Homo sapiens: one gene and its partners. The protein of the gene in region 3 interacts with the protein of the main gene of each other region in a pairwise test. Each region holds a gene or a part of one and is shown on either strand. Other genes may lie near its edges.

Evidence for each region. Proteins that work in one complex are often made in the same cells at the same time.
Region 1: the proteins of ATF7IP (region 3) and FLT4 interact in a two-hybrid assay, tested with the Homo sapiens proteins (one large-scale study listed by IntAct).
Region 2: the proteins of ATF7IP (region 3) and CEP250 interact in a two-hybrid assay, tested with the Homo sapiens proteins (one large-scale study listed by IntAct).
Region 4: the proteins of ATF7IP (region 3) and CSPG4 interact in a two-hybrid assay, tested with the Homo sapiens proteins (one large-scale study listed by IntAct).

Annotation. Positions count from the first base shown.
Region 1 is NC_000005.10:180,624,595-180,629,815, reverse strand, and holds part of FLT4 (vascular endothelial growth factor receptor 3 isoform 1 precursor), read left to right. Parts: coding exon 1-120; intron 121-388; coding exon 389-557; intron 558-816; coding exon 817-934; intron 935-3,550; coding exon 3,551-3,705; intron 3,706-3,784; coding exon 3,785-3,947; intron 3,948-5,221. UniProt on the Homo sapiens protein: Tyrosine-protein kinase that acts as a cell-surface receptor for VEGFC and VEGFD, and plays an essential role in adult lymphangiogenesis and in the development of the vascular network and the cardiovascular system during embryonic development.
Region 2 is NC_000020.11:35,499,883-35,505,103, forward strand, and holds part of CEP250 (centrosome-associated protein CEP250), read left to right. Parts: intron 1-166; coding exon 167-287; intron 288-1,962; coding exon 1,963-2,084; intron 2,085-2,507; coding exon 2,508-5,123; intron 5,124-5,221. UniProt on the Homo sapiens protein: Plays an important role in centrosome cohesion during interphase. Recruits CCDC102B to the proximal ends of centrioles. Maintains centrosome cohesion by forming intercentriolar linkages.
Region 3 is NC_000012.12:14,498,182-14,501,681, forward strand, and holds part of ATF7IP (activating transcription factor 7-interacting protein 1), read left to right. Parts: 3' UTR 1-3,500. UniProt on the Homo sapiens protein: Recruiter that couples transcriptional factors to general transcription apparatus and thereby modulates transcription regulation and chromatin formation. Can both act as an activator or a repressor depending on the context.
Region 4 is NC_000015.10:75,687,843-75,693,063, reverse strand, and holds part of CSPG4 (chondroitin sulfate proteoglycan 4 precursor), read left to right. Parts: intron 1-2,251; coding exon 2,252-5,221. UniProt on the Homo sapiens protein: Proteoglycan playing a role in cell proliferation and migration which stimulates endothelial cells motility during microvascular morphogenesis. May also inhibit neurite outgrowth and growth cone collapse during axon regeneration.

The DNA.
Region 1 (5,221 bases), on a different chromosome or scaffold from region 3:
CAGCTGTTGCCCAGGAAGTCGCTGGAGCTGCTGGTAGGGGAGAAGCTGGTCCTGAACTGCACCGTGTGGGCTGAGTTTAACTCAGGTGTCACCTTTGACTGGGACTACCCAGGGAAGCAGGTGAGGTCAGCAGCGCTGCCAGGCTGTCCTGTCCCCAGGAGTCCCTGTGACTGTACAGCACACACTGGGCCTCCGCGTGGAGGATGTGTGGGCCCAGGCCTGCCCCAGGGGCCCCGGTCTGAGTGGCAAGTGTTCCACCCAAAGAAAACTCAGGGCCTGGGTCCAGGGCTTCCGGAGCCACCGCTGGCTGGGCTGGGAGGTGTGCCTTCGGTGGGGTAGCTGTGCAGGAGCCCGCCTGCTGACGCGGGGCTTCCCTGGGTGCGGGCAGGCAGAGCGGGGTAAGTGGGTGCCCGAGCGACGCTCCCAGCAGACCCACACAGAACTCTCCAGCATCCTGACCATCCACAACGTCAGCCAGCACGACCTGGGCTCGTATGTGTGCAAGGCCAACAACGGCATCCAGCGATTTCGGGAGAGCACCGAGGTCATTGTGCATGGTATGGCCTGGGAAACCAGGGTCCTTGTGCCCTGTGGGCCTGGGCCCAGAGCTCACGGTGCCCTTGAGCACTCAGGAGTCCAGCCAGAGGGAAGGGAGGGCCACGAGCAGAGGAGCTGCCCAGCTCCTGCACCGGGCGGCATGGCCAGCCCCAGTCTGCGGATGTCCGGCTGCCGGGGCTGCAGGGGCCGTGGGGGGAGTCCCTGGTCAGTCCACGACGGGTCAGTCCTGGATTTACAGTGACTTCTCCTGTCCGGCAGAAAATCCCTTCATCAGCGTCGAGTGGCTCAAAGGACCCATCCTGGAGGCCACGGCAGGAGACGAGCTGGTGAAGCTGCCCGTGAAGCTGGCAGCGTACCCCCCGCCCGAGTTCCAGTGGTAACAGCCCTGGCTCCCCACCGACCCCGCCGATACCCTTCCAAGTCCAGGGGCAAAACAGACCATAGGGGAAGACGGGCAGCGTCCTCCCCGTCAGGACCTGCACACGGAGACCAGGCATGGCGGGGGCCTCTCTCAGGAGACCCCCCAAGGAACCCGCCCATAATGTGATATTTCAGATGGAAGGTCTGTCTGTTCCTGCCACACTGTGAAAGGTTTCAGTACCAGCCTTCTGTTACATGTGGGTGTGGTGGGCACAGCGAGGGGCTTTTCCTAACTGCCTCCTGACCGCTGGGCCCCTCTCTGCCCTGCAGAATCTCCAGGGCCTGCCCTGCAGCAATGGCTTAGCGTTCCCTATGCCTCCTTTTGCGAGGCTGCCTCTCCCAGGACCCTTCTGTCCAGAAATTTGGAGATGCCACAGGGAATTGACAGATTGCCTGGGCTGGGCCTGTGCTGCACGGCAGCGAGCGAGAGAGCTTCCAGGAGGCCGACAAGCTGCTGGAGTCCCCGCAGATCCCCGATCTGCAAGCGTGTGCTGCGGCCCAGAGAAGGGAGGCCTCAGGGGTGGCCCTGTCTCCGCTGGCTACTCCCTGCAGGCTCTGGGGGGGCATGGCACCCCTCACAAACACGTCCTCAGGCCGTCTGAGTCATCCACATGGCTCACCCACAGTCAGTCACACTTTGAGTCCCCATTGCATAGACGAGGAAGCAGAGGCTAGGAAAGGGTATTCCTAACTGATCGCCAATTCCCCAGGAGGGGTCTCTGCACTGAGCTAGCCCAAGAGCCTCCTTCTCTTCAGCCTGGGCACCTCCCTCCTGGCAGGGCAACTTTTCCTGGAGCTGGGCAAGCAGAGGCCCAGGGTTTCCTCAGCCAGGGCCCCTTGCACTGGCTGGGGGCTCGTCTCTCCTGGGATGGAAGGCCCAGGGTGTCCTGGCCCTGAGCCCAGTGTGACCCTCCCACTGAGGACACAGACTTCGGTGTCCATCCAAGGCACCTGGTCAGTGCCAAGGCCCTTGGGGCAGAGTCCTGAGGGCACTGGCAGATCCTGGAGCCTCACTCACGGGTACAGCTCCTGGAGACCCCTGGGCCCTGTCCCCTGCCCTCCAAGGCCACCATTACTGAGCCTGCTCTGGGCAGGTGGCAGCTCTGTTGCGTCCAGGGTCTACCCAGTCCTCAGGCAGCTGCCTCTCAGAACAGCTTTCCACTGGCTCACTCCTGCCACATCTGGCTCTCTTCCTATGGCAGCCACCCACCCTTCCTGTGGTGCCCACCCTTCCTATGGCACCAGCACATGACGATGGCGAGCACTGACTGGGTGGACGGTCTAGCAAACACACAGATGGGCTGGTCCTTGGCTTCCGAAGCACCCGCAGTGTGTCCAGCACGCTGCTGTCACTGTCCGGGTTAAACCTCACGACAGCTGCAAGGTGCATGTCATCTCCATTGAGGCAATGAAGGAGTCTCAGATCCAGCAAGTGGCAGACTCAGGACCAGAGCCATGCAGACAGCACCACCTCAGTTCCGCCCCTGCCCTGCCCTGCCTCACTCTGCGACCCCAGGCCAGGCACTCCCCCCGGGCCCCTGCTGTGATGTCCAAGTTGAGAATGGGCCCCTGCCTCCCCTTCTCTGTTGGTCTCTGCCCGAGGGCTGTGCCTCTCCCAGGACACAGTGGTGTATCTCTGGCCTGCCACACCCAGCACCAGGGGCAGGCACCTGTCCAAAGGAGGAGCATCTCCATACAGAGTCCAGGCCACAGAGACAGGTGCCTGCAGGGGCCCCAGCACACCCTCTGGGGCTGAGGCATCTGCTTCCTCACGTGTGCAGCAGACATGTAGGCATCTGGGCGCAACTCTGCAGGAGGCAGCACTGCCCTCGTGGGGCTCCCAGCCCAGGGGGACGATGGGCAAACAGACACAGCAAGGCAGGGGCAGGCCACAGCATAGGACAGTCAGGAAGGCTGCACGCCCCCACCCAAATGAAGGAGGCAGGGAACCCTGCAGATTCCTGGCTACAGAAATGAGTGTCCCAGCGAGGCAGGCAGTGAGAGCCAGGCCTGGGGGCGGGGTGTGGGCAGCAAGAAGCCCACATGTCTGCAGGGGCCACGCACATGTCAAGGAGCTAGACTGTGCTCGCAGGGACTGCACCTCCACTCCTTCAGGTGTCTAAGAAAGAGGACGGGGTCTCCAGGCCGTGCCCAGCTGGGTGGAGGAACCAGGTGTGTGGGACCCTCCTGGGCTGGGCTGGGCAAGCCTGGCTGAAGAAGGCTGTCTGCAGCCACAGGCAGGGAGAGAAGGCGGCTGCCCCAGCAGTGACATGGTCATCTCACTACTTGTGGAGAGTTCAGAGGCTTTGGGGCAAGGCAGGAGGTGCTACTGCAGACCTCAGTGACCAATGCCCGAGCCGGCCGCCTGACACGGTTGTCACACCTGGCAGATACGGCCTGGAGACCATCTCCAGGGACTTAGACCATCCCCTCGCAGACCAGTGTTCCCCGTCCTACCCTGCACTCCTGCCAGCCCCTCCCTCCTCCCAACTGTATTTGGGGTGGGGGTGCCAGCATGAGGTTGGGGCTGTGGTGGGATCTGTATGGGCCCTGACCTCCCTTCCCTGGCCAGGTACAAGGATGGAAAGGCACTGTCCGGGCGCCACAGTCCACATGCCCTGGTGCTCAAGGAGGTGACAGAGGCCAGCACAGGCACCTACACCCTCGCCCTGTGGAACTCCGCTGCTGGCCTGAGGCGCAACATCAGCCTGGAGCTGGTGGTGAATGGTAGGTCAGGGACGGGAGAGCGCACGGGTGGGCGGCCTGGCATTGGAGGCCAGCTGACCGGCCATCTGTGTGCCCACAGTGCCCCCCCAGATACATGAGAAGGAGGCCTCCTCCCCCAGCATCTACTCGCGTCACAGCCGCCAGGCCCTCACCTGCACGGCCTACGGGGTGCCCCTGCCTCTCAGCATCCAGTGGCACTGGCGGCCCTGGACACCCTGCAAGATGTTTGCCCAGCGTAGTCTGTGAGTACAGCTCCAGCCTCAGGTCCCCTGCACAGCCACAGCCCCCAGCCTCAGCCATGAGGAACCTCCTTTACAGCACCCCTCACTGCCCAGGTCTTCCCTGTACCCCTTCTCAGGGCCCTGCTCTGAACTTGAACCCTACCTTCAGCTATAGCCAATCCCTGGCCTCACCTCGCCTGAGTGAGGCTCAGAGCCTCCCTTGCACCCATCCTCCATCAGCTGGCCAAGCTGGACACAGGATGGGTCTGGCCCCTGCCCACCTCCCTCAAGAGCGAAGACCTCTGGACACGTAATTGCATCATCTGGAGGGAGAAGGAAGCACATGTCTCTGAGCACCCAGCAGGACACCTCCAGCGGGGTGGGGACCTGGGGGGGTGTCACCTGAGCCCCTGGGATGGTTGCACTGAGCCCCACGGCACACCATGTGTGCTCATGGGCCTCAGCTCATCTGTGCACCACTCACATCCCCTTAGAGACAGGGAAATAGGGTCAGAGAAGGGAGGCGGCTTTCCCAGGGGCACAGCTGTAAGCAACAGGACCCAGCCACCTGCTGAGCCGTGCTCCCCTCCACTGAGCGGGATGCCAGCAGGACATTTAGACAAGCAGGGGGTGAGAGGAGGACGCCCAGGTGGGCAGGGCTTGAAGGCACTAGGGAGCCAGTGAAGGGTGTTGAGAAGTGGAGACATGGCTCAGGTTTGCCTTTTAGCAAGAGATTCCTAGTATCAAACTGGGGCGGGATGGGAGCTGGGAACCTACATGGGAGATGAGGGTAGCCCCACTGGCTGTGGCTCTGGTGTGGTCAGTGGGGGAGGCTCAGTAGGGGTGGCATGAGCCGGCCCCAGATGTCCAAGGTTCATAGGTATTCTTCTAGATCGTGCGGCATGCAGCTCACTGCCAGCACCTCCAAATGTCCTTCCTTCTGGGTGTGCCACCTGTATGCTCTGTGCCAAGTGATGGAGCCCTTCGGGGGGTCCCTGCTCGGCTCCTCCACAGGGGCAGATATGAGCCTCCCTTGGGGCCCTGAGACTACCCCCCCAATCCTGGCAGGAGGCCAAGCTTGCTGGGGATGCACACCCTGCCCAGAGGGAGGCCGCAGCTCCTAAAGCAGGAGAGAGGGAGAGGCTGGGCAGAGATGCCTCCGGGGGCAGCATGGGACTGTGCTGGGCCTGCAGCCATGTGGGCAGATCCCAGGTGGCCTCTGCAGGAAGGGGCACAGAGAAGCGGGACAGAGTGCACATGTGCCTGAGGGACAGTGGGCACAGGAAGCTGGTGTT
Region 2 (5,221 bases), on a different chromosome or scaffold from region 3:
CAGGAAGCTAAATACACATGTGTTTAAAGGAAGTAACCCGGCAATCTGGGAGTAGGTCCACAATGGCGGCCCACCACAGAAGCTGAGAATGAGGAGAGAGCTTGAGCCCTGCATTGTTTTGTGGAAGATGAGGAACTCACGTTTAGCCATGCCCTTCCTTTCCCAGGATGTTCTGAGGGATCAGGTCCAGAAACTGGAAGAGCGTCTAACTGATACTGAGGCTGAGAAGAGCCAGGTCCACACAGAGTTGCAGGATCTGCAGAGACAGCTCTCCCAGAATCAGGAAGGTGAGAAGCTCAAGACAGGCAGGGAGATTGAGAGGGAGAAGGGATAGGTGGGGAGCCCAGAAGTGGCAGGCACAGGCCTAGCAGCCACTCTGTTTATTTTATTTTATTTTTGAGACGACATCTCACTCTGTCACTCAGGTTTGAGTACAATGTCACGACTTCGGCTCGCTGCAACCTATGTCTTCCGAGCAGCTAGGATTATAGGCATGCGCCACCACGCCTGGCTAATTTTTTTGGATTTTTAATAAAGACGGGGTTTCACCATGTTCACCAACCAGCGGAGCCACCGGGGTCTCTAGGAGCTCCTGCACAATTATAGGATTGGGGGCTAGAAGGGACCTCCAGTGTCATCTGGCTCAACCCTGTCTGGAATTGAGGGCCAAGGCTCTCTGTGATGAGGATGAGGACATATTGGGATGATTACCAGGCAGCGCTGGGGCTGGCAGCAGCAGGGAGTGCTTGAACTCCTGGCCTCAAGTGATCCGCCTGCCTCGACCTCCCAAAGTGCTAGGATTACAGGCGTGAGCCACTGCGCCCAGCTGCACTGCATTATTTACCCAGAAATGTGAGGTGAGATCTAGATGCACTTCCAAAGGGGTGCTGACCACCTTGAACTATTTTTTCAGCTTTGCTTGGCCTTTGAGGCCCATCCTGGAAGAAGAGATTAGGAGGAACAGATTTGATGAACTGAAAGAAGGAAATGGCTGGGCTTCCATTTTCTGTCTCTGTAGATTTAAAAATTAAAAAAATTGGAGACCCAGGGCCAGGACTGTAAGAACATTATAAAACTGCATCTTTTGTCATCCATGTTACTTATTTTTATCATCTTCAACTGTGTCCTCCAAGTTAGCCTTTGGTAGCTGAGGGATTATGAGCTTATTTGGGAGAAAGCAAAGAGAGGGGATCTGGGGAGGATATATCCATGTGCCAGCCAAGGACTAGAAAGTGTCATGACTCCTTACAAAGGACAGGAGAGGAAGGGTCTTGAAGCTCAAGTTTCTACTGTAAAAGAGAAGAGTTAGCCGGGTGTGGTGGTGGGCACCTGTAATCCCAACTACTCGGGAGGCTGAGGCAGGGGAATCGCTTGAACCCGGGAGGTGGAGGTTGCAGTGAGCCGAGATTGTGCCACTGCATTCCAGCCTGGGTGACAGAGCAAGACTCCATCTCAAAAAAAGAAAAAAAGAGAAGAGGACACCTTGGGTCTGGGCCTTTTTTGAGGCCGTTTGAGGGTTCCCTGAGAGCCACAAAAATAATGGGATTCCAACGCCTGTTGCAGAAATGGTGGGCAACCAGCAGAGCCACCCGGGTCTCTAGGAGCTCCTGCACAATTATAGGACTGGGGGCTAGAAGGAACCTCCAGTGTCATCTGGCTCAACCCTGTCTGGAATTGAGGGCCAAGGCTCTCTGTGATGAGGATGAGGACATATTGGGATGATTACCAGGCAGTGCTGGGGCTGGCAGCAGCAGGGAGTGCTGCCAGGCAAATAGAAGCAGCTGGCATCTGCCAGCTCTTGATGTCCTTGATATCTCTAGGACACTGGATATAATTTTCTCCTTCTTGGCCTTCCTTCCCTTTGAATCTGTTCCCCATCCTCCATCTGCCTCTATATCCCTCTATATCCCAAACATGGGTCTTACTCCACTACCTCTCCTCTCCTCTCCTCTCTTCTCAAAGAGAAATCTAAGTGGGAAGGAAAGCAGAACTCCCTAGAATCTGAGCTGATGGAACTACATGAAACTATGGCATCCTTACAGAGTCGCCTGCGGAGAGCAGAGCTACAGCGAATGGAAGCCCAGGTAAAGTGGTACTGGTTTCAGGGAGGGGTTTGCCTCAGGAGTAGTCCCTTGGGCCCACCTTGGCCTGTGGTCCTGTGTCCCACTTCCTTCAGCAAGTCTGTCAGTTCCTCTGGCTGTCTCCATGTCCCTGGGGGCCATTATTCAGGTTCCAATGAATCCTCCTTCAATTGCTTTTTCTGAATTGAGGTTGATATTTTTGCCCCTTGTCCTGAAGGACCAGCGTCTCCCCTGGGCATAGCAGAGTCCTGGAAGGTGGTAGGGATGCCCTTTTACAGTATCAGCTTAAGTGGAATATACCACCACTTTTTTTTGCCCAAGTCCTTATCACTGCTAGTGCCACAAAATAAGAAAGAGAAGGGTCGGTGTTGGGGTGACAGTAGCAGGGAAGTGTAGTCTAAAGTGGCTTTTCATCTTGTCTTCTAGGGTGAGCGAGAGTTACTTCAGGCAGCCAAGGAGAACCTGACAGCCCAGGTGGAACACCTGCAAGCAGCTGTCGTAGAAGCCAGGGCTCAGGCAAGTGCTGCTGGCATCCTGGAAGAAGACCTGAGAACGGCTCGCTCAGCACTGAAGCTGAAAAATGAGGAAGTAGAGAGTGAGCGTGAGAGAGCCCAGGCTCTGCAAGAGCAGGGCGAACTGAAGGTGGCCCAAGGGAAGGCTCTGCAAGAGAATTTGGCCCTCCTGACCCAGACCCTAGCTGAAAGAGAAGAGGAGGTGGAGACTCTGCGGGGACAAATCCAGGAACTGGAGAAGCAACGGGAAATGCAGAAGGCTGCTTTGGAATTGCTGTCTCTGGACCTGAAGAAGAGGAACCAAGAGGTAGATCTGCAGCAAGAACAGATTCAGGAGCTAGAGAAGTGTAGGTCTGTTTTAGAGCATCTGCCCATGGCCGTCCAGGAGCGAGAGCAGAAGCTGACTGTGCAGAGGGAGCAGATCAGAGAGCTCGAGAAGGATCGGGAGACTCAGAGGAACGTCTTGGAGCATCAGCTTCTAGAACTTGAGAAGAAAGACCAAATGATTGAGTCCCAGAGAGGACAGGTTCAGGACCTGAAAAAGCAGTTGGTTACTCTGGAATGCCTGGCCCTGGAACTGGAGGAAAACCATCACAAGATGGAGTGCCAGCAAAAACTGATCAAGGAGCTGGAGGGCCAGAGGGAAACCCAGAGAGTGGCTTTGACCCACCTTACGCTGGACCTAGAAGAAAGGAGCCAGGAGCTGCAGGCACAAAGCAGCCAGATCCATGACCTGGAGAGCCACAGCACCGTTCTGGCAAGAGAGCTGCAGGAGAGGGACCAGGAGGTGAAGTCTCAGCGAGAACAGATCGAGGAGCTGCAGAGGCAGAAAGAGCATCTGACTCAGGATCTCGAGAGGAGAGACCAGGAGCTGATGCTGCAGAAGGAGAGGATTCAGGTTCTCGAGGATCAGAGGACCCGGCAGACCAAGATCCTGGAGGAGGACCTGGAACAGATCAAGCTGTCCTTGAGAGAGCGAGGCCGGGAGCTGACCACTCAGAGGCAGCTGATGCAGGAACGGGCAGAGGAAGGGAAGGGCCCAAGTAAAGCACAGCGCGGGAGCCTAGAGCACATGAAGCTGATCCTGCGTGATAAGGAGAAGGAGGTGGAATGTCAGCAGGAGCATATCCATGAACTCCAGGAGCTCAAAGACCAGCTGGAGCAGCAGCTCCAGGGCCTGCACAGGAAGGTAGGTGAGACCAGCCTCCTCCTGTCCCAGCGAGAGCAGGAAATAGTGGTCCTGCAGCAGCAACTGCAGGAAGCCAGGGAACAAGGGGAGCTGAAGGAGCAGTCACTTCAGAGTCAACTGGATGAGGCCCAGAGAGCCCTAGCCCAGAGGGACCAGGAACTGGAGGCTCTGCAGCAAGAACAGCAGCAGGCCCAGGGACAGGAGGAGAGGGTGAAGGAAAAGGCAGACGCCCTCCAGGGAGCTCTGGAGCAAGCCCATATGACACTGAAGGAGCGTCATGGAGAGCTTCAGGACCACAAGGAACAGGCACGAAGGCTGGAGGAAGAGCTGGCAGTGGAGGGACGGCGGGTCCAGGCCCTGGAGGAGGTGCTGGGAGACCTAAGGGCTGAGTCTCGGGAACAGGAGAAAGCTCTGTTGGCCCTCCAGCAGCAGTGTGCTGAGCAGGCACAGGAGCATGAGGTGGAGACCAGGGCCCTGCAGGACAGCTGGCTGCAGGCCCAGGCAGTGCTCAAGGAACGGGACCAGGAGCTGGAAGCTCTGCGGGCAGAAAGTCAGTCCTCCCGGCATCAGGAGGAGGCTGCCCGGGCCCGGGCTGAGGCTCTGCAGGAGGCCCTTGGCAAGGCTCATGCTGCCCTGCAGGGGAAAGAGCAGCATCTCCTCGAGCAGGCAGAATTGAGCCGCAGTCTGGAGGCCAGCACTGCAACCCTGCAAGCCTCCCTGGATGCCTGCCAGGCACACAGTCGGCAGCTGGAGGAGGCTCTGAGGATACAAGAAGGTGAGATCCAGGACCAGGATCTCCGATACCAGGAGGATGTGCAGCAGCTGCAGCAGGCACTTGCCCAGAGGGATGAAGAGCTGAGACATCAGCAGGAACGGGAGCAGCTGCTGGAGAAGTCTCTGGCCCAGAGGGTCCAAGAGAATATGATCCAAGAGAAGCAGAATCTGGGGCAAGAGAGAGAAGAGGAGGAGATAAGGGGCCTTCATCAGAGTGTAAGGGAGCTACAGCTGACTCTAGCCCAAAAGGAACAGGAGATTCTGGAGCTGAGGGAGACCCAGCAAAGGAACAACCTGGAAGCCTTACCCCACAGCCACAAAACCTCCCCAATGGAGGAACAATCTCTAAAACTTGATTCTTTAGAGCCCAGGCTGCAGCGGGAGCTGGAGCGGCTACAGGCAGCCCTGAGACAGACAGAAGCCAGGGAGATTGAGTGGAGGGAGAAGGCCCAGGACTTGGCACTCTCCCTAGCGCAGACCAAGGCCAGTGTCAGCAGTCTGCAGGAGGTAGCCATGTTCCTACAAGCCTCTGTCCTGGAGCGGGACTCAGAACAGCAAAGGCTGCAGGTAAGTCACTCCATGGGGAGTAAGGGCCAGGGGACACACCCCTGTCTGGCTGAGCTCAGGGACTGCCCACCACCCTGGGCCCTGTGGCACCTCAGGGG
Region 3 (3,500 bases):
GACAGATGTGTGTATACACTACATTTGTTTATAACCAGAAGCAAAATAAACTCAGCCCACAAAGCTAGAATCTTTTCCTGGACAGTTTAGGCTTTGGGGTTTGGAAATGTAAATGTGTACCTTGCTTTAGTTTTGAGGCTGGGGAATATGTGTGGGTGTTTATGTGTGTTTTTCCTTATGTAGGTGTTATTGCATTGGAGTCTCCCATTTTCATTCTCAAATTTACCTCTTAAAGTACGAAGTAAGTAGATCAAAGGATTTGAGATGTGTAACTGGCATGATTCTGCTTTTGAAGGATCTATAGTATCATTTTAGTTAAGTGGGTCAAACAGAATCAAAACAAAACCCAAAGAAATAAATAAAAAACAAAATGGCTAAATAGTTTAAAATAGGTTAATTCGAACACAGGAAAGGATCTATTTGTTGTTTCTTTTGTCTGGTCTCCTGAGTTGTTAATTAGGTGAAAAAAGATCTGCAATGGCCCCCTCCCTTTCCTAATCTGGCTTTTACATTTATTTTGTGCCTTAAAGATTAACTACAAAGATAAACATGGCCAAAAATAAATAAATAAATATGGCCATATGTCCGTTGTTGCTTAGTCTTCCCTTGCAGCCTTTTACCCTTGATTTCTCCTTCATCTCTACCAAATATAGCACAACTCCTCAAGTAATTTTTTTTTTTTAAGATGGAGTTTTGCTCTTGTTGCCCAGGCTAGAGTGCGGTGGCACAATCTTGGCTCACTGCAACCTCTGCCTCCTGGGTTCAAGCAATTCTTCTGTCTCAGCCCCAGAGTAGCTGGGATTACAGGCACCTGTCACCATGCCCGGCTAATTTTTGTATTTTTAGTAGAGATGGGGTTTCACCATGTTGGCCAGGCTGGTCTTGAACTCCTGACCTCAGGTGATCCACCCGCCTCGGCCTCCCAGAGTGCTGCGATTACAGTTGTGAGCCACTGTATCCAGCCTACTCAAGTGATTTTTAAACCAAGGTGTGTGTATGTACATGGATGTGTATGTACACACACACACAGGTGCATGCATAGTCTCATCTTAGCCGGGCATGGTGGCGACAATCACATTTAACTCCAAAAATTTGACGTGCTATTTTCTTCTAAAACTATAGATGCTTTTATTTTTGGTCACTATTTAACTTTGTGTAAAGTGGACCAAGAGAAAACCATATTGTGGAAGACAGTTTTTCACACATTTTAGTATCCGTGTTGCACACTGTGTTAGAGATTATGAAAACCATTCTAGTTCAGTTTATCACCCAAAGCTATCACCCAACACTAACTCCTTAGTATTCTTTCAAAGGAAGCAAATAGTAAGATTACAATATAGAATGAGCTAAAATATCAAGGGGAAAGCTTCATTTCCTCTTTATTCTCTTTATCGTCCTTCCCATTTTAACCTTTTAACTTTGTTTTGATGGTGCCAAGTTGAGTCTGATGTACCCATTGTTAGCTTTGGATAGAATTTAAAGTATATCCCAGAATTAGCTGGGCATGTTGGTGCATGCCTGTAATCCCAGCTACTCAGGAGGCAAGGCTGGAGAATCGCTTGAACCCGGGAGGCGGAGGTTGCAGTGAGCTGAGATTGCGCCATTGCACTCCATCCTGGGAGACAAGAGCGAAACTCTGCCTCAAAAAAAAAAGAATTTAAAGTATATCCTTTGAGGTCATTTTATGTAACAATTAGATATAACCTCCTGTGTATCTCTCTGTTCCTCTTCAAAGTTATTAAAATTCAGCTTAGGTCATGGATTTTTAATATGAGGGCCAGCTGTACTGGTGTCAGGTAGGTGTTTTGGGTGTAGATAATTTAGGACTGGAGGGCTGAGTTAAGTTTTAGGAGGAGAATGTGGTTGAGAATATTTTGAAAGGAATTTATGGAGTTTGTGAAATAACTTCGAAGTCCTCTTCCTTTACAATATTTGAATTCATATTTGTACCTTCTCAAAATAGTGATTCATTTTTCCTAGAATTACAGGAGGGAGCTCTTTTACTAATGTTGTTTTGTTTGCAACTTTGATGGCTTATAATAGGAAGTATTCTAGTTGTAAAGAAAACTCTTTAGAGACTTTTGACTGGTCAGTATACTGAGGTGTGAGATTTGATTCATGATGAAGAAAGCCTATAGATTGCCAAAAAATTAATTCTCCAAACCACCTTTCACTCTCAGAAAATGAGACCACAAAGGAGTATGCTATAAATCAAATTTGCCAACCAATTATGTAGATATTACTCATTCTAGGACTAATGATGATGGTAAAGAAGTTGCCAGTGTTATGGCAATGAAAATTTCAGAAAGGAGGAGTTGATGATCTTCTAGATGTATATGAACACCTGTCTATATCTGCATGTATATGTTTTGACCTGCAGTGGTTGCAATGTTGATATGTGTTCAAGATTATTCCTGTCTACAAAACTGAAGGCCCATGTTCAAATTGTTCTTTATTGGGTGTTTTTATGGTCACGTGGTAACAATTTTCTTACCTAACCTACAAAAGGTTCTCTTGATGAACATTTTTATTTATATTTACTAATCTTTTTTAAAAAAAGCTTTCATAGCATTATATAATCAGATGAAGAAAGCCCAGTAGAATAAAAAAAAAATTCATTAGCCTAGCCTATATTATGTTTTCTGTCAAAGGAAAACAAATTCTCAAATAGGAATTCTAAAAATATTTACTAAAGTAAAATAACTACTTAAAATGTTTTATTCCAGTTGGAAGGAAGGTACAGGGAGAAATCGCAATTATTTAGGGGAGAAGTATATTTATTATAAGATGGTGTCCTCAAATTAGCCTACCATGGCACGTAGGGGCAGCAGCTATATTAGATTTACTAGAGGTGCTAAGTTAGAACACTAGGCTTTTATTGAGGCAGGTTTTAATATTGATAGATGCTTTTTGTTTGGTTTGTTTCTTCTGGGAGAGAATGGAGGACTTAAGTAGAAGTAGCTACTGATAACAGACTTTCTAGTAGCAGTTTCCACTCCACGGTTACCTTTTTAGTTTCATAGTATCTTTTCACAAAGTATTACAAATAAGCTAGATTCTCCCAGTTTGGGAATGCAAGTTTGCTACATTTTTAGCCTGGCAATATTTGTGTAGGTATTGCCTTATTGGAAATTCTGGAAACCTGATACTGCAACCTGCAATGTAGGATGTTTGTATGGCATTTAAAGGTAATGGTGATGTTTATTATTCTATACTTTGCATTCTGTGAGAGTAATTTTCACTCTGTCTTAAGTGTGAGTAAGCCTCTTCTAAAAATCTTGTTCTTGCCAAGAAATTTATAAATCACATACGAAGACGTCTGTTGCTAACAGTTAACTTTATGAGGTAACTATATCCTTCTATTTCTCTGGACTCATTTTTAAAAAATATGCCGAATACTGCATACTGTTTAAGGTAGTATATAAGTTTATGAGAGAAGTGGAGAGCTTTCTTCCTTGAAAAGTCGGTATTTGTTGAGATACCATTTGCCTCACAGAGAG
Region 4 (5,221 bases), on a different chromosome or scaffold from region 3:
GACGTCCCCCTGAGATCTGGGCGGGATTCGGGGTGGGATTCCTTCTCTAGCTTTGAGTGAACCCCAGCTGGCTGTGTGACCTTGTGTAAGTCACTTTTATCTTGGGGTCTTAAGTTCTCCACTGTGGGATGGGCAGCAGCAGCCCAGAAATGGTAAATCCTTCATGAACTGGCTCTGCCCACTGGCTCCCTCCAACCATGTTTCCCGCCACAACCCCTCGCTGGCCCTTTGTGCTCTGACAGCCCTGAACTGCTTTCAGTTCCTGGCCATCTTACAGTCGCTTGCTGCCAGGCTCTTGATGCACACTCCTTCTGCCAGGTGTGCGCCTCTCCCGTTCCCTGCACATGCCTAACTCCAGCCTCTCCTTGAAGTCTCAGTGTGGGCATCCCCTCCTCCTGGGCTAGGCCCCCTCCTGAGCCCCCATGACCCCTGTGCATCCCGGTGGCACTGCACCAATTTCTCTGCAGCACCATGGTCTGTCCACGACAGTAACAGCACCAGTACTGCCTCAGCTTCCTCATTTTTCCATTTCATCCTTCAAGACACCACAAGCTTTGTTAGCAAGGAGTCTTGTGGCTTTTTTGAGTCTTCCCCTAAACCATGAAGAGTTTAAGAACCCAGGGTCTTATTCCGAATTTGTGCCAGGCTGGGTGCAGTGGCTCATGCCTATAATCCCACCACTTTGGGAGGCCAAGGTGAGAAGATCACTCGAGCCTAGGAGTTCAAGTCTGGCCTAAGCCACACAATGAGTCCCCATCTCTATTTTTAAAAGAAAAAAATAACCGGACGCGGTGGCTCATGCCTGTAATCCCAGCACTTTGGGAGGCTGAGGCGGGTGGATCACCTGAGGTCAGGAGTTCGAGACCAGCCTGGCCAACATGGTGAAACCGTGTCTCTAATAAAAATACAAAAAAATTAGCCGGGCATGGTGACACATGCCTGTAATCCCAGCTACTCAGGAGGCTGAGGCAAGAGAATCACTTGAACCCAGGAGAAGGAGGTTGCAGTGAGCCGAGACCGCACCATTGCACTTCAGCCTGGGCAACAAGAACCAAACTCCGTCTCAAAAAAAAACAAATTTGGGGCAGCCATCTCCTTCCACACCCCATGGGGAGAGGACTAGGGCTTGGTCAGTCTGCTGCTTTCACTGTTAAACACCAGCGTGGTGCAGGCTGGTGCTGATGGCTGTCCAGTTCTGTAGGTACAATGATGCCACACCCCTACAGAGATGCTCCATACCAGGACTCCAAAATTATAGTTCTTAGTGCCCTGGTTCTGCAGTTACCATACTCTGCCACCTCCCATTCTACCATCTGGGAGCACCGTACCAGAGCCATTTCTGCTGTCAATGTCATGGAGACAGAACTATGTCCTTCATCTCTCCCCAAGATCTCCTTCCACCCCAGGTCAGGGAGCTTTTTTTCAGAACACAGAGTATTTAAATTTTAATTTAAAAATTAGCCTATTCCTGAACAGTGAGCCTGGCTGCCTTCAATGACCCCAAGAAACTTTGCTCTGTTGAAGGGGACTGATCAAGGGATTCCCAGTTACCCATTATTCCAAAGTTGAAATCCAGATTCCAAGACAATATTTCTGGCACCTCTCACTCAAGGAAAGAGGGGAAGAATTTAAAAACACAGGTTGGATTTCTAGGAGAGCATCTTGCTGTATGTCAGTTCCTTGTGGGCGAGGACCACATCTGATTCATATCAGGGTCCCCAGAGCCCATCCAGCCCTGGCCCAGAGTTTCCTTTGGTGAGTGTTTGGAGGATGAATAAAGAGATGGCAGGACGGCAAGAGGAGTGGCACCAGAGGCTCTTGTCCTAGGTTTTCCACTCTGGGGCCCCAAGTGTGGGGAACTCACTATGCTTTTTTTTTGTTTGTTTTTTGAGACAGAGTTTCGCTCTTGCTGCCCAGGCTGGAGTGCAATGGCATGATCTCAGCTCACTGCAACCTCCACCTCCCGAGTTCAAGCAATTCTCCTGCCACAGCCTCCAAAGTAGCTGGGATTACAGGCATGCGCCACCATGCCCAGCTAATTTTGTGTTTTTAGTAGAGACAGGGTTTCTCCATGTTGGCCAGGCTGGTCTCAAACTCCTAACCTCAGGTGATCCGCCTGCCTTGGCCTCCCAAAGTGCTAGGATTACAGGCATGAGCCACCACTGCAATCACGCCCGGCTCTATGCTTTTATAAGGGAAATGATGGATCCAAAGTGCTGTCCACTATCTCCCACTCCCCATCTCTCTTCAGGTCAGACTTGTTCTGGGCCAGGAGGAGCTGAGGCTGCAGACTCCAGCAGAGACGCTGCTGAGTGACTCCATCCCCCACACTGTGGTGCTGACTGTCGTAGAGGGCTGGGCCACGTTGTCAGTCGATGGGTTTCTGAACGCCTCCTCAGCAGTCCCAGGAGCCCCCCTAGAGGTCCCCTATGGGCTCTTTGTTGGGGGCACTGGGACCCTTGGCCTGCCCTACCTGAGGGGAACCAGCCGACCCCTGAGGGGTTGCCTCCATGCAGCCACCCTCAATGGCCGCAGCCTCCTCCGGCCTCTGACCCCCGATGTGCATGAGGGCTGTGCTGAAGAGTTTTCTGCCAGTGATGATGTGGCCCTGGGCTTCTCTGGGCCCCACTCTCTGGCTGCCTTCCCTGCCTGGGGCACTCAGGACGAAGGAACCCTAGAGTTTACACTCACCACACAGAGCCGGCAGGCACCCTTGGCCTTCCAGGCAGGGGGCCGGCGTGGGGACTTCATCTATGTGGACATATTTGAGGGCCACCTGCGGGCCGTGGTGGAGAAGGGCCAGGGTACCGTATTGCTCCACAACAGTGTGCCTGTGGCCGATGGGCAGCCCCATGAGGTCAGTGTCCACATCAATGCTCACCGGCTGGAAATCTCCGTGGACCAGTACCCTACGCATACTTCGAACCGAGGAGTCCTCAGCTACCTGGAGCCACGGGGCAGTCTCCTTCTCGGGGGGCTGGATGCAGAGGCCTCTCGTCACCTCCAGGAACACCGCCTGGGCCTGACACCAGAGGCCACCAATGCCTCCCTGCTGGGCTGCATGGAAGACCTCAGTGTCAATGGCCAGAGGCGGGGGCTGCGGGAAGCTTTGCTGACGCGCAACATGGCAGCCGGCTGCAGGCTGGAGGAGGAGGAGTATGAGGACGATGCCTATGGACATTATGAAGCTTTCTCCACCCTGGCCCCTGAGGCTTGGCCAGCCATGGAGCTGCCTGAGCCATGCGTGCCTGAGCCAGGGCTGCCTCCTGTCTTTGCCAATTTCACCCAGCTGCTGACTATCAGCCCACTGGTGGTGGCCGAGGGGGGCACAGCCTGGCTTGAGTGGAGGCATGTGCAGCCCACGCTGGACCTGATGGAGGCTGAGCTGCGCAAATCCCAGGTGCTGTTCAGCGTGACCCGAGGGGCACGCCATGGCGAGCTCGAGCTGGACATCCCGGGAGCCCAGGCACGAAAAATGTTCACCCTCCTGGACGTGGTGAACCGCAAGGCCCGCTTCATCCACGATGGCTCTGAGGACACCTCCGACCAGCTGGTGCTGGAGGTGTCGGTGACGGCTCGGGTGCCCATGCCCTCATGCCTTCGGAGGGGCCAAACATACCTCCTGCCCATCCAGGTCAACCCTGTCAATGACCCACCCCACATCATCTTCCCACATGGCAGCCTCATGGTGATCCTGGAACACACGCAGAAGCCGCTGGGGCCTGAGGTTTTCCAGGCCTATGACCCGGACTCTGCCTGTGAGGGCCTCACCTTCCAGGTCCTTGGCACCTCCTCTGGCCTCCCCGTGGAGCGCCGAGACCAGCCTGGGGAGCCGGCGACCGAGTTCTCCTGCCGGGAGTTGGAGGCCGGCAGCCTAGTCTATGTCCACCGCGGTGGTCCTGCACAGGACTTGACGTTCCGGGTCAGCGATGGACTGCAGGCCAGCCCCCCGGCCACGCTGAAGGTGGTGGCCATCCGGCCGGCCATACAGATCCACCGCAGCACAGGGTTGCGACTGGCCCAAGGCTCTGCCATGCCCATCTTGCCCGCCAACCTGTCGGTGGAGACCAATGCCGTGGGGCAGGATGTGAGCGTGCTGTTCCGCGTCACTGGGGCCCTGCAGTTTGGGGAGCTGCAGAAGCAGGGGGCAGGTGGGGTGGAGGGTGCTGAGTGGTGGGCCACACAGGCGTTCCACCAGCGGGATGTGGAGCAGGGCCGCGTGAGGTACCTGAGCACTGACCCACAGCACCACGCTTACGACACCGTGGAGAACCTGGCCCTGGAGGTGCAGGTGGGCCAGGAGATCCTGAGCAATCTGTCCTTCCCAGTGACCATCCAGAGAGCCACTGTGTGGATGCTGCGGCTGGAGCCACTGCACACTCAGAACACCCAGCAGGAGACCCTCACCACAGCCCACCTGGAGGCCACCCTGGAGGAGGCAGGCCCAAGCCCCCCAACCTTCCATTATGAGGTGGTTCAGGCTCCCAGGAAAGGCAACCTTCAACTACAGGGCACAAGGCTGTCAGATGGCCAGGGCTTCACCCAGGATGACATACAGGCTGGCCGGGTGACCTATGGGGCCACAGCACGTGCCTCAGAGGCAGTCGAGGACACCTTCCGTTTCCGTGTCACAGCTCCACCATATTTCTCCCCACTCTATACCTTCCCCATCCACATTGGTGGTGACCCAGATGCGCCTGTCCTCACCAATGTCCTCCTCGTGGTGCCTGAGGGTGGTGAGGGTGTCCTCTCTGCTGACCACCTCTTTGTCAAGAGTCTCAACAGTGCCAGCTACCTCTATGAGGTCATGGAGCGGCCCCGCCATGGGAGGTTGGCTTGGCGTGGGACACAGGACAAGACCACTATGGTGACATCCTTCACCAATGAAGACCTGTTGCGTGGCCGGCTGGTCTACCAGCATGATGACTCCGAGACCACAGAAGATGATATCCCATTTGTTGCTACCCGCCAGGGCGAGAGCAGTGGTGACATGGCCTGGGAGGAGGTACGGGGTGTCTTCCGAGTGGCCATCCAGCCCGTGAATGACCACGCCCCTGTGCAGACCATCAGCCGGATCTTCCATGTGGCCCGGGGTGGGCGGCGGCTGCTGACTACAGACGACGTGGCCTTCAGCGATGCTGACTCGGGCTTTGCTGACGCCCAGCTGGTGCTTACCCGCAAGGACCTCCTCTTTGGCAGTATCGTGGCCGTAGATGAGCCC